Regions from separate parts of the Homo sapiens genome. Here region 2 is linked to region 1. Evidence: fine-mapped expression QTL. A gene starts in region 1. The other region holds a variant in brackets. All regions are shown on one strand. Distances are from middle to middle.

Evidence for each region. PIP is the estimated chance that this variant, and not a neighbour inherited with it, causes the effect.
Region 2: its variant is the best candidate, but not a certain one, in a credible set for the expression of CHL1-AS2 in left ventricle (GTEx, PIP 0.88).

What each region holds. Positions count from the first base shown.
Region 1 is chr3:195,153-199,550 of GRCh38, forward strand. It overlaps CHL1-AS2 (CHL1 antisense RNA 2), which reads right to left and starts at 2,189. Exons shown (of 4, transcript NR_144487.1): 1 at 1,815-2,189; 2 at 1,304-1,356; 3 at 844-888; 4 at 606-762. It overlaps CHL1 (cell adhesion molecule L1 like), which reads left to right and starts at 1,611. Exons shown (of 28, transcript NM_006614.4): 1 at 1,611-1,911.
Region 2 is chr3:119,726-124,123 of GRCh38, forward strand. LOC107986057 (a long non-coding RNA gene) reads left to right here and starts at 3,867. Exons shown (of 3, transcript XR_001740582.2): 1 at 3,867-3,989. The variant T/C (reference allele first, on the strand shown) is at 1,700.

The DNA of each region.
Region 1 (4,398 bases):
TATTGTGGCTTGGTACTGTCTAATATATTTGGAGGGTATTTGATTTTTTAAAAAGCTACTGGCCATGCCTATTGAGTTTCCTACTGAGCCCAGCACCCAGACCAGTGATTGATTAAATAGTAGCTGCTCAATAAATATTTGTTTTGTAAATAATGATTCTATTGTCAAGAAACAAATCACCAAGAAAGAAGGAGCTATATATTTAAGAGTACTCTGTTCATCTGGCCAAAATGGAGTTCCGAGTCCCTTGCTCAGCTGATGTTTGTTCACCCAGAAGATGGTAAACTCCTGAGACCAACTTCGCTTTGTTGTTCTCTTGTGGTTCCTTGACCTTGGAAATGTTTTTCTACAGGCAGAGTATTTCCCCCTGTTGGAATTTTATTTAATATTCTATCTTTGTTTCTACTTTAGAAAACATGCCACGTGAATAATGATGCCTCAGGCAAAAGAAATCACTCCAGCAGTACAATTTAAACTTAGGACAAATCCTGCCCTCACTTGCATTCACAATTTGCCAAGGCAGTTGGTAAGAACTGTGCCCACACACAAATTGACAGAATCGAGGCCCCAAGGTTAGCGATGATTAAAATTTAAAAGTCCATTCATTCATTTTCAAAATATTTTATTCGATTGCTTCTGAGGCAGAATCATGAGTTGCCTTCGCTTTTGCTGCTCCCGGTGGTGGCATCCAACTCTGAGGATAGCTCATCCAACTCTGAGGGTAGCTCTGAGGGGAGCTAAATATCCTCATTGTTCAATGAGCTAGATGAAAACAAAACGAGGCTGTAAGGTCAATCTCACAGCCTTAGTGGAGTAAAAATTAGAAGTCAATAATTCTCTTACCAACAAAGAGGACTTGCATTCAACAGGATTTTCAAAAGTGGTATCCTGTAAAAATTTTGGAAAATACCACCATAATGGAAAAAAAATAAAGTGGCATATAAATCAAATGTAGTGCTAAAAATTATAATTTTTCCATATGAATTTTGGAATCCTAAAATATTTTTATGTGTTTGTGGATTCATAAGGCATCAGAACTGGCTTTTTGCACTGAATATGAGTACAGAAGGCTTTCCTCTCCAATAGTGAATTAATAAAGGATAAGTAGGAAAAACGTTACGAAACGATGTGGTAACATTATAGACTCTGTATTAGGGCAAAAATTGTGAGATAGTAGAAGATCTGTAAATTTAAGCATGCACAATTTGACAGCGGATGGTCGTAGCATATTTTGTAAATTCAATAGCAAGCCCCACCACGCCCTTAAATGAAGGAAAGCAAGAAGACAATTTTTAATACGTACATGGCACCACACCCCTCTAAGACGCAGCAATGGGAGAAAAGCAGATTGGCGACCTGTGTGTGCAACATGAACCGAGTGAAACCATCGGGGAGGGGGTGGGGGGCGTTTCTTTTAAATGTCGCTTTTGCAGATAAACGAGCAGGGATCCTACCTCTTTTGACCGGAGATGTTGAAAAGCACGACCAAAGTTTTTGGCTTGGTCTCTTGCTTTCCACAACGAGATAAAGTCTGAAGCCTGTAACTCTCCCTGTCCCGCGGGAGCGTGCAAAGGGAGGGAAGATAAGCGGCGTGGGTGAGGGGTGGCGGCGCAGAACCCAGGAAGGGAGCAGAGGCGAGAGCCAGCCTCCGGCAGGAGGGCGTAGACCCCGGTGCCAGCCAGAACGGCTCCAGCCTTCCCGCGGCCAGAGAGCCAGCGGCGGGAGGGGACGGGCGGGACCTCCGCGGACAGCCCCGGGTGCGGACCAGCGGGCAGCGGCCGGCGAGACCCTCCCTGGATCCGCCCAGAGCTTACCGGACCCTGCGCGCCCCCGTCCCGGCTCCCGGCCGGCTCGGGGGAGAAGGCGCCCGAGGGGAGGCGCCGGACAGATCGCGTTTCGGAGGCGGCGCAGGTGTGTCAGGGGTGGGGGTCCGCTGGCATCTCTCGTGCCGGCGCTGGGGGGGTCTCCCGTGGAGGAAGGGCTGAAGGTGCTCCGGGAGGGGTCCACTCGTTATGGAAAGGAAGCGGGGCGCGGTCAGGGTCCCTCGTCCGCAGTGGGGGTGGTCCGGGCCCCTCAGCCTGCACCCGGGAGGAGACGCCCCCTTTTCACGCCCCGCCCCCGGTGGCCGAGGCCGGATTCGGACAGCTCGGGGTCAGTCGACGGAGCACACCGGGCGCCCGAATCCGCCGGGTCCCACTCACGCCCGCCGGCCGCCGGTAGGTTGGCCCTCCCGCTTCCAGCCTCCGCCACCCCATCCCTCGCTGCTCTCTGAGGAGGATTCCAGACCCCCCCGTAGATCTCCGCCCTCTCTCGGGTGGGGCTCCGAGGTCTAGCTGGTCTGGGGGTCAGTCCCGGCCTCTGTCTCCCACCGCGCCCCTCGCTCCCCTGGACACCGCCTGGTGTGTGGGGCTCAGACCCCCCCAGTCCACTGCCCCTGTGTGGCTCCTCCTCTCAGGAGAGGATTCTAGATCCCAGCCCGGGGGGGGTTCCGAAAATGCCGCCAGCCTGGAGCGGGGAATCCATGGACCGTGGGGTTGTGGGGTTGGGGAGCACGAAAACCCAGAGAGGGGCTAGAGCTCCACCTCCCCAGACCGCCGAGGGGCGAGAGGGCGCGCCGGGGGCCGTGGTTGCCATGGCTCCTGGTAGCGGAGCCCGGGGGGCTGGAGATGCCGGTCGCGGATGGTCCCTTCTTCCTCTTTGTGCCTCTCTCTTTCTCTCGCTTTTTTTTTTTTTTTGGAGTGTGAGTGTGCGTGGGGAGGCAGCACGGAGAAAGTGATTAATTTGGGGAGCAGGGATTGGAGCCGGGAGGCTGGGGAAAGCCAGCCCCTCCGTTCCCACTCTCCGGGCTCGCTGCGAGCCACAGTGTCTCAGCCAGGGGCAGGGCCGGGGAACTCCTGCGAAAAACCACGGGCCGGAGGAGCAGCAGCCGCGCGGGCCCAGGTACCCCCGCCCCAGACGGCCAGCAGGGTGGAGCGCAGGGTGGGCGTTTGGGCTGCTGGGCGGGAAGGCGGGCGGGGAAGGGGTGGGAGGCCGGCGGCGGAGGGCAGGTGTGCGTCGGCAGGGCTGGGTGGCCCGGCAGAGAGGGCGCCCCAGGTTCAGCCCCTCCTCGAAGGGCGCCGGCGTCCAGTCCCGCTCGTGGGAGCCGCGGAGCAGCCCCAGGGCCGGCGAGCGGCTGCCCTGCCAGGCGCGTGCGCGAGGGCGCGCTCCCGCGGGAACGCGCCGTGCGCGGGGAGATTTGCGCGTGCGCGTGGCGATGGTAACTGGTGGGCCCCCCGGGCTCGCTCTAGGCGGAGGCTCCCGGGACGCCCACGTGGCTTCGAATTCCAGCTCCACCATCACTGTGATGCGTCACTCTGGACTAGGCATTTAACTACGTGCCTCAGTTTCCCTTTCTCAATAATACGGAGATTATCGATACCCTCTATACTGGGTTGTTGCAAGACTGGAATGAGATGATACAAGTAATTTAACACCATAGATTTTTAAATTTAACACCATATGCATATTTGATGCATAATAAGCACTCAAAAGTTATTGTCGTTGATGCCATTACTGTTAGTTAATCCTCAGTTTAATTACATATGGTGCATTTTCATTTCTCTGCATTTTCATTGAAGTAAAAATTCTGCGTTTTCTAATTTTGGAGAATAATCTTAATTAAAATATGAATATTTGTACTGCACAGTCCAACTCCTACGAAGCTCTGCCTTGCAGCAGATTGGAAGAGAGAAACTGATCAACTGCCGATGAAGTTGGCTTTTCAGTATATTGATGGAGAGAGAAGCTTAGGAAGCTCTTTGGGGAAACTTTTGGTGACAAGAAAATAAAAAGTTTATCCCAGAGTTTTTCTTTTGTAAATCTTTGTGTTTTCTCTTTCACCTGCAGATGTTGCAGTTGGGTTTGTCTTAATTTCAGTCTCTTTGTGAGGGACCACCATTTGGCTTTCATAATTTAACGTGGTTACAGAGCCTATGTATACCCTGGCTTTCCATTTTATGGCCTTAAGTGCTGCAGTGGATTTACCTTTAGTAATGGCAGAACGTAGTGTATAATCATTCCTTGCAAGCTCCTGAATATTGTGAGCAAATCAATGGAGACAAATAGTTATTACTGGATGGGTGTGAGTACTGGCTATGGCAACTCATTAAAATCTCTTTCAGGGTATGTTTGTACCCACTTCACTGCAGCACAAGACTATGATGATGAATATATGTTTCCCAGATTGTTATCTGTTGCATGTAGACTTACGGATCCTTTTCTTCAAAGAAACGGCTATAGATATTTATTGATTCCTCATGGTTATATAGGTCCTCCAACCTATCTGCTGATAAGTACACTGTACACTTCGTGGGCCTAGCTGTAGGTCTAAGAGGAGTTGATTTTGCACATACTATACTT
Region 2 (4,398 bases), 75 kb before region 1:
CAGCTACTTGGGAGGCTGAGGCAGGAGAATGGCATGAACCCGGAAGGCGGAGGTTGCAGTGAGCCAAGATTGTGCCACTGCACTCCAGCCTGGGGGACAGAGTGAGACTCCCTCTCAAAAAAAAAAAAAAAAAAAAAAAAAAAGAAAGAGAGATAATGACCTGAGAATGGATGAAAAATAAGGAAGAATGTTGGGTGATATGTAGTCAAATGAGATGGGATTCAATGCTGACTGTTTATGCTTTGGACAGGAATGGTCTAGAAGTGTCAGTGGAGAGAGATAGGACATCTGTCCTGCCACCAGATGCCATGATACCATAGGAGAGAAAAGAACCACTCACTAAGAGTGCTGCAGAGAAAGATTTGCCATTAGAGGAGAAAGGATTTTGTGTGAGCAAGAAGTGAATGTTTGCTGATGAGGTTGAGAATATCAGTTGACTGAGAATTGACATAGAGCTCCATATGGCCCCATGAAAGGTTATTAAAGATGGGGAGGGAGAGATAAGGGTCAGAAAAGGCAATGGGAATTAGGGGTGGGGATCTGGAGGATGAGCAACAATATGAAGCACCTGGACACCTTGTGACATTCAGCCTAAACAGGGAAAGGGGCATGATGACTAGCTCCAGTGGTCTCAAGGCAGATGGAATAAAGAGGCTTCTAGTATTGAGGGGGAAAAGGGATGAAGAAGGCCCTTGCCAGAAAGAAGAATTCCGTGGTTCCCACTTAGCCAATGCCATTGGAGACAACACACCCTGCTGAAGGATGATCTTCCTCTGAGGTTGTAGACACCTGCTTGGCCTTTGCTGAATGGAGCTTTTTTAGAGTTGGGTTTTCTTTTTAGCATAGGCACTCTCCAGGCCTACGCATATAGCAGCCTGCAAGTGGGGTGTTATCACAAAGGCATATTTAACTCAGTGTAACTAACTGATAGTGGAACATCAGAAAAAAGGAAGAACATCAGAAAGAGAGAAATATACCCAAATAAACTAATTGCAAGGAATAAAATATGGGTTTAGTTGACAGATATGTTGGTCAGTGTGCAAAAAAAAAGGTAGAATAGTCCATTATAATAGTTTATTATACCTGCCAGCTTCCTTGTTTTGGCCATTTGTTTACTCTCCGTTTTTGACACCTGCCTCAATTACTTGTTGTGACTCTGTCGATTCTGATGTTGCAATAAACCTAAACATTATGACTAAAACTAAATATTTTGTGCTTTTTTTCTTCTTTGCCTCATACTAAACTCAGCCAGAAGCTGAACACTCTCATGAGAGTTCCCAGTATGATGGAGAAAAGAAAAAAATATGACAAGCACTGCTTGTCAATAGAGAAGCAAAATAGAACATGCCTTTTTTGGGGGGCCAGAAGTGCCACCTTTAGATGTTAAATATCATCCCTTCGGTCAAAAAAGATGCTGAAAATCTTTCTAACTCTTTCAAACTGTGCTTTCATCAAACTGTCAGGACTTCCATAGATAGCTGAAATTCCAAATCAAAAACCTAGCAAGCAGTTTCATCGTCTGTGTTCAAATCTCAGTGGGACTTTATAGCACTTTCCTTGGGAGCAAAATTCATGTGTCTGAAGCTCAGCTTACATTTCATGTTGAAAAATTGCAATGAATACAATGAAGTTTCTTACTGCTACATAAAATTGAAGCACCAAAGAGAACAGTGTGTATTTCACAATGTTTGATATAGTA[T/C]TTGATCATAACTTGAGGGAATCAATGAACCTTCAAGAAGAAACTCTTGGGGATCCTCATGCAGCAAATTCAATCATTTGTTCATCAACTCATTACATTTCTATTGTACACTAGCCATGTGCTGGGCTCATCCTAAGGAACTAAACAGGCTCTTAAAATGACGGTCTGTAGGCGTAAAACCTTTTCCATTTTAATAAGTAAATATAAGAAAAATACAACTCATGAACTAGGTATTTCCCAGGTTTAATTCAGAACATCATAGTGTCAAAAATTGTAGTTACTAATTGTGCATCAAAACAACAATGCCAAAAAAAGAGATAACAATCTTTTTTGTTCTTGAAAAACTAGCAGATTAATGTATTTTGCTACTTAGATATTATCAGAAGTATCGACCAGACTACTTTAAGCAACAAAATGACAACAAAAAATCAAAGAGTATATTGGCGAACGGAACTGAGAAATTCAGTACACAGAACTTCAGGCACAGCTTGATCCAGAAAATCAGCATTCTTTTTCTCTTCCTAAACTTCTCAGCCTTTCTCTCCACAGTGTCTTATCCTTATTTTCCCCAACTATTAGTACATTTCTTTTAAGAAAATCTGGAAGAAAGCTTCTGAGAACTCCTGGCTCAAATCATCACAAATTAGAATACAACATTAAGAAAAAAGTGTATTCCCTCTCACCTGCTGCCATCATCTACATATCAATCTCAGGAAAGATGCTAATTTCACCTCTGTGAGTTATCTTCTTAACTTTAGACCAATCACTTTTCCCAGGGGATGAGATATTAGCTAAGCCAAAGACTTTGTAGCCAGAAGTGGCCAATGGACTGTGATTGATATCTCTTCAGAAGCAAGGGAGTAGTTAGTACCCCCAAAAGGAATGATGATGAGGAGAAAATAAAAGCAACATATATTCACTATGCCCAACCTGGCAACAAGAATTGAAGTAACCTATATATCTAACAGATGAAATTATTTATGGTACAGCTAAACAGCAGACTGCTATGCAGATACTATAATTATCTTGCAAAAATATGTCATATCATGAAAAATGTTCACAACACATGGTTAGGTTTAAAAAGTAGCTTATTAAACAGTAGATCTAATAGAATACTATTTGGATAACACTTTTGTATTACAAGATGAAAAATCTATATATTATTATGTATGCAGAGAAAAAATACTATAAGGAAATACACTGAAATGCTAATTGTGGCCATCCTTTGGAGGCAATGTTATAGGGATATTTTGTTGTTAGTTGTGCATAATTATGTTAACTACTTTTTCATAATAAAATGTATTACTTTTGAAATCAAAGAAAGAAAAAACTATCATGTGGAAATATACACCTAGGAGTTTGGATTTATTTCCAAAGGAAAATGTCGTGGTGATAGATTCCTTGCAATAATTTTCATAGACACACAACACGAGTGTGTATTAGTTCCTCCTGAGGTAGAATCACAAAGTATTTGCTCTTAGGCTCTTGATCTGAGCCCTGAGGAATCACATTTTCAGTTTTATTCCAGGCATGTTTCAGAAATGGCAAGATGAGATGAAAGAAAGATTAGAGTCATGTCTAAAAATTGGCTTTACTAGGGCAAGTAAGTCCTTCCTGTATAGTGAATTGTCATTTTGAACTGTAAGACATTTTTTTGAAGAATTCTTTAACCACAAAAACAAAGATTTTCTTTTTGTCGTTTTATAGTCTCAATTTCAGCAAAATATAGTGCATATAATAACAAACAGATGGAGGAAACAAAACAACAAAATATTCAGTGTTAGGCCAGCACTGATTAAAGCTTAATATTTTGTCTGGGGGTCTAAAATAATCTTTTCAGAGAAAGTAGTTGTCAAGGCAGCTGGTGTAAAACTGTTTATTCTTTTTGTCATCTTGTAGAGATGTTAAAGCTTCCCTATTGCAGTATAATGCTTTTAAATCCATAAACGATCCAAGGTTTTAAAAGATGTACATATATTAGATCTGAATTTGTTCGAATTATTTATAAAGTGGAGAGATGGTTAGCATTAATGAAATGATCCTTTCAGTCCTTGCAAATTGTTCCCATACCTCTTTCTCATACTGAAATATTTACTGAGTTTCTGTGATGTCACTGAGTTGGTTGCTATGGGAAACCCATACAAGATCAGGAAGTGTTCTTATTTGTAGTAAGTTCATTCTATTCAAATTAGGTATCCTTTGGAATAGGAAACGTTTTCAGCCATTGTACATTATTGAACTTTTATTTTGTCTACCGTGTACAAAGTACCTGTGAGATGGGGATACAAAGGTAATGAAGTTATTTTTATACATATGAAGGTAATTATATTTTTAAAAGAATTACTATGTAATGCAATGTAGCTAAGATAATAATGCAAAAAAAACTTGCTATATGAGATTGGAGGAAGGAATTTGAAATGCATTTAGCTGCAAGTAACACAAAAGTCAAACTACACTGACTTAGTTAAACAGATTTTTTTTTTCTTATGTAAGAATTGGAGATATAGTAATTAAGGACCAGTTCAATAGCTTAGTGCTGCCAGAAATGATGCCTCCACTTTTCTCTTGGCCTTTTCCTAAGACTTAGCTCCTCTGAATTTCAAGATGGCTACTAGAAATCATATCCACATTGAAGGCAGAGAGAAGACAGAGGAAATGAAGTAGAAACAAATGGATCTTTTCCCTTTATCAAGAAAGCA